Linked DNA regions of Homo sapiens: region 2 is linked to region 1. A link means that fine-mapping ties the variant in region 1 to the expression of a gene that starts in the linked region. Tissue or cell type: aorta. Region 1 holds a variant in brackets; the other region holds the start of a gene. All regions are shown on one strand. Distances are between the middles of the regions.

Region 1 (2,750 bases):
AGGAGCCGCCCCCGGGGCCTTCCCTTCACAGGCCCCGCAGACACCAGCCCAGGACCCGGAGGCCACCCACACCACCGCCGGCCGATGGGCGTCTTACCAGACATGGTTAGACCTGGCCCTCTGTCTAATACTGTCTGGTAAAACCGTCCATCCGCTGCCTGATCACCGTTAGAGGAGAGAGCTGCCTGCCCTGCAGCTCATCAGTGCAAAGCCGCCCGGTCTGGGGCTCTCATGCCCCCCTCACTATGGCCTGTGCCCATCCGCAGCCCATCAGTGCAAAGCCGCCGGGGTCTGGGGCTCTTGTGCCCCACCCTCGCCATGGCCTGTGCCCACCCGGCCTCCTGGGGCCCTCGAGCTGTAGTCCCCGGGCAGATGCTGTGGACCCCGTGCTATCAGCCTGGCCCCTGGGGTCACAGTCACAGATACCCGGAGCCCCACCCCACAGCCCCAGCCCCCTCGCCACCTGGGGAGGCTGAGACAGAAGCAGCTGGGCCCCCCAAAGTGCCTGAGCCCAGGGCACGGAGGAGCACAAATGCCCAGCAGGGACAATGTCACAGCGTCTCAGCGGCCAGGCAGCAGGACGCAGAGACCTCTGGGAGGTTCCCGGGGCCAGCCCTGGCCCTCCTCCTCCAGGGGCCAGCCGTGGGATGCAGACCACACTCTCCCTCCAGGGCCCATCTCTGGGGCTGAGGCGGGCGGGGCCGGTGCCCAGCTGCAAGACCATGGGATAGGGAAGGCAGGTGCTTGGGGCCACGCAGCCCTGCACTGGGGGCCCCTCCACCCCAGGCGGCTCACGAGGTGTCATCTGGAGCTGTCCCCAAGCCGGGATCTGCAGGTTGACCTCCCCCACCCGGGGCTATCTCCAGACCCTCTTTCCTCCCTGGGGAGATGGGGCAGTCCCCCGCAGGGCCAGCTGAAACCACCCCCATGCTGCTGCCGCCTGAGCGACGTGTGTGGGGAAGAACTTGGAGTGCCACCCCCAGAATGTGGCGTCCACCTCACCAGACCGCACGGGTGAGCCCTGGACTGCAAGGTGCATATAACACAAGGTTTGGACACACCTGGAGAGCTCGGGCCAGGCAGGGCCACACCTGTGAGCCTGAGCTCATCCAACACCGCCCGGAGCTCGGGGACCTTCCCCATCCCAGCACCTCCTCACCGCTGTGCCCGTCTGGCCAGTCCCTCCAAGCACCCCTCGGATGAAGTTGCGCCCCACACTGCAGTGGGGCTCACTCTCCACAGCGCCTGCTGCGTTGCACGGGGTGTGACAGGAAGGACCCTGCTGGGGCTGGCGGGGCCGTACCCAGAGCCTCCCTGTGCGGTTTCTCCTCCTCCTCCTCCTCTCCATAAGCACCGGGAACAAAACAGAAAAAAGTCTTTGTATAGTAATAAAGTCTGCAGTTCACGCACC[C/T]ATGCTTGGACCAGCTCCTTATTTTAACCACACGTGCACAGACCCCCGCCGTGCAAAGGGCCCAGCTGAGGACAGAACCCCAGACACTGCATCCGGCCCCGGAGGCCCCCAAGGTTCCTGGGAGAGGCTCCCTCCCTCCCTTCCCTCCTCTTTCCCTCCCCCTCCTCCTTCCTCTCCTCCATCCCTCCTTCCCCCTCCTCCCTCCTCCTCCTCTCTCCGTCCCTCCCTCCCTCCTTCTTTTGCTCAGGAATCTTCCCTGACTCTCCTGTGGTCAGCTCAGGTCAAGGTTCTGGGGGAAGGGGGAGTCCCTGAGTGGAGACACCTCAGCCTGTGCTGAAGGGAGCTACCGAGGGGGCAGCCGGTGGCCCTGGGGGGCCTCTCTGAGCAGGTGACCAAGAGCGTATGGTGCCGGCCAGCAGGAGCGAGGGCTGCGGACAGGATGGAGGCAGCCAGGCGCCAGCCAGGAGGGCTTCCTGGTCCAGCCACACCTGCCCCGGTGACAGCCACAGGTTGGTGGCAAAGGGGCCACCTCCCTTCCAGTGGCAGGGCCTGGCCTGCCTGGAGACCCCACCCACTGCCCGAGAGGTGCCAGGCCTCCCCCATTCTGCCTGGCCCTGGGGGCTGCACCCACCTGGACACGCGGGCCGGGCACACCCACGGCCCAAGGTCCTGCTCCCACCTGCCCTGCGCAGGAACCTTGCTGGGGCTACAGGTATCCGTGGCTGCCACACCACCCAGATTTTGGGATTAAGGGGCAGAGTTTTCAAGTTTGAACTCAGGAAAGCTGTGAGGGACGAGGTAGTGCCTGGCTGGGGAGCCTGGGGGCTTCTGAGGGCGGTGGGGAGTCCTCAGGCCTGTGTGGGGCCCCAGGGAGGGGAGGCTGCAGGGGTTGGGGGACCTGCCCGCTGCACCCCCTCTCCCCCCACACAAGGAAACCCGTCCTCCGAGGTGTGTGTCCAGATCACATCCTCCAAAGGCCGGTGCGCCACAAAGATGAACACGGGGCTCTCCCTCCCAGCCCAGGGGCAAGGACCCTGCCTTGCTCTGTTCCCGGAAGGGCCAGTTCTGGAGAGGAGCTGGGCGAGTCCTTCCCATCCCCATCAGCTCCTGTCAGGCCACCTGCCTCAGCCTCAGGGAGGAGGGGACACACGTAGGCCCCTTCCCAGAGTCAGAGCTTCCGAACCCGGATCTGCTGCTCCCAGCCTGGAGAGCCACAGCAGCCACCGAAGGAACCCCCCACCCGTCACCCCCACCAAGTGGGCCCTGCTCCCCGAAGGCCCAGCCACTCAGCCCAGGACCTGCCCCAGCCCCACCTGCCACCTGACCTGAGGCTCCCAGA
Region 2 (2,500 bases), 62 kb after region 1:
CTGGGACTATAGGCGTGAGCCATGCACCCGGCCTGATTTTCTGAACATGGCTGAGGGCTTTTCCCTTCCCTAGTGGTGGCATAATTCTATTCCTGTCGTCCCAGATCGCCTGACCAGGGGAGAGTCCTGGATAAGAACCAAGACACCTCCTCCTGGTGCTGACTCCACTAACTACAGTCGTAAAACACACGCTGTGTGCAAAGAGACTGTACTTTGTTCCTAGAGAAAATAAAGCTAGTTCTTGATTCTACATATCTTGATGAGTTACACGGTTTACTTGAGGCAGGAGGATCGTGAGACCAGCCTGGGCAACACAGTGAGACTGCGTCTCTTTAAAAAACAAAAACAAAAAGATAAGACCCTGTCTCGAAAAAGGGGGAATAAAAAGTAACCCAAAAGTAACTATAAATATCAGGAGTCCATCAAGTGGCGCTTCCTCTCCTGGCTTCAGAGTATCTATTCATCACGGTGTGCCAGGTTCGCAGCACAGCGGAGCGGGCCGGTCCCACCGGAATGGGGTTTCGACTTCGCCATCCCCTAGCAGCTCAGTTCCCAGCAAGGAATCAACACACCCTTGCAAAACGGACGTGGGAAACAGCTTAGGCAGAGACGCTATTTCTTTGCCATCCCTGGGCTTCAGCTCTGGTGGAACGAGGCTATTTCTGGCAGTTAACAACACACACGGTTAGATTCTAAAAGCTCAACAGGGTTCATAACACCGCCTCTGAGCCAGACATCAAGGGCTCCACACAGCCGACTTCACATCTCCAAATCCTACTAACTGGGGATGAGGGTCCACGCGGTTCAGAAGCGGAAGCGCAGGCGCAGGGAAGCGGGGCAGCTTGTCCAAGGTCGCCTCGCCGATAAACGCGAGTCCAACCAGACCCCTTGGGCCTCCGTTTCCCGGTGGCATTCGTAGGTTTTGGCCAGTAGGAGACCAGACGTGCCGGCGGCCGGGGAGGCCAGCGTCGTCGGCCTGTCCCTGCCCCCGGGAACCCCGGGAGCCCCGGTGGCGGCGGAGTCTCGCCAGGGCTCAAGGCCGAGCGGACGGACGATGCCCCAGCCCAAGGCGGGAGGCGGCGGCGGCCTCCAGACCCGCCCTCGCCGTCCGGCCGGCGTACACTTGGCCCCGCGGCCTGCAGCGGCCGTCCCGGGCCCCTCACTCACCGGTCTGCCTCCCCGCGCTCGGGATCCGAGGACCGGAGCGAAGCGTCAGTGACGCCGCCAACGGGCCCGGATCAGGCCACTGCCATCTTTCTTGCGGGCGGGGGCGGTGCGAACGGGCGCGACCTCACGGAGGGGACGCCGGCGCCACCATCTCTCCTCCGGGCGGAAGCGGTCGCGGGGCCGCTCCGAGGTTGACCAATGACAAGGGTGCCCGAGGCCACGTGACGGCCGCCGATTGGCCGCCGGCCTCCGAGCGCCCCGGGGCTCGGCGTCTGCGGAAGGCCCCGGCGCGCTCCCAGGAGCGCCGTGCGCACGCGCACCGCCCCGAGCCGGCGGCGCCTGCGCACTCGCGAGTCCGGCCTGGGCCGCCGGCCCGGCGCGGGCGCCATGAAGCTGCTGCGGCGGGCGTGGCGGCGGCGGGCGGCGCTAGGCCTGGGCACGCTGGCGCTGTGCGGGGCGGCGCTGCTCTACCTGGCGCGCTGCGCGGCCGAGCCCGGGGACCCCAGGGCGATGTCGGGCCGCAGCCCGCCTCCCCCCGCGCCCGCGCGCGCCGCCGCCTTCCTGGCAGTGCTGGTGGCCAGCGCGCCCCGCGCCGCCGAGCGCCGCAGCGTGATCCGCAGCACGTGGCTTGCGCGGCGCGGGGCCCCGGGCGACGTGTGGGCGCGCTTTGCCGTGGGCACGGCCGGCCTGGGCGCCGAGGAGCGGCGCGCCCTGGAGCGGGAGCAGGCGCGGCACGGGGACCTGCTGCTGCTGCCCGCGCTGCGCGACGCCTACGAAAACCTCACGGCCAAGGTGCTGGCCATGCTGGCCTGGCTGGACGAGCACGTGGCCTTCGAGTTCGTGCTCAAGGCGGACGACGACTCCTTCGCGCGGCTGGACGCGCTGCTGGCCGAGCTGCGCGCCCGCGAGCCCGCGCGCCGCCGCCGCCTCTACTGGGGCTTCTTCTCGGGCCGCGGCCGCGTCAAGCCGGGGGGGCGCTGGCGCGAGGCCGCCTGGCAACTCTGCGACTACTACCTGCCCTACGCGCTGGGCGGCGGCTACGTGCTCTCGGCCGACCTGGTGCACTACCTGCGCCTCAGCCGCGACTACCTGCGCGCCTGGCACAGCGAGGACGTGTCTCTGGGCGCCTGGCTGGCGCCGGTGGACGTCCAGCGGGAGCACGACCCGCGCTTCGACACCGAATACCGGTCCCGCGGCTGCAGCAACCAGTACCTGGTGACGCACAAGCAGAGCCTGGAGGACATGCTGGAGAAGCACGCGACGCTGGCGCGCGAGGGCCGCCTGTGCAAGCGCGAGGTGCAGCTGCGCCTGTCCTACGTGTACGACTGGTCCG

The links. PIP is the estimated chance that this variant, and not a neighbour inherited with it, causes the effect.
Region 2: SDF4 starts here. The variant in region 1 is fine-mapped to the expression of SDF4 in aorta (GTEx, PIP 0.97).

Annotation. Positions count from the first base shown.
Region 1 is chr1:1,168,930-1,171,679 of GRCh38, forward strand. MIR200BHG (MIR200B, MIR200A and MIR429 host gene) reads left to right here. Exons shown (of 2, transcript XR_007065348.1): 2 at 1-1,409. MIR429 (microRNA 429) reads left to right here and starts at 76; the gene lies at 76-158. RefSeq lists an enhancer at 1,877-2,444. The variant C/T (reference allele first, on the strand shown) is at 1,412.
Region 2 is chr1:1,230,725-1,233,224 of GRCh38, forward strand. It overlaps SDF4 (stromal cell derived factor 4), which reads right to left and starts at 1,277. Exons shown (of 7, transcript NM_016176.6): 1 at 1,168-1,277. B3GALT6 (beta-1,3-galactosyltransferase 6) reads left to right here and starts at 1,513. Exons shown (of 1, transcript NM_080605.4): 1 at 1,513-2,500. The coding sequence starts at 1,555. RefSeq lists a silencer at 755-1,614 and enhancers at 1,231-1,912, 1,913-2,500.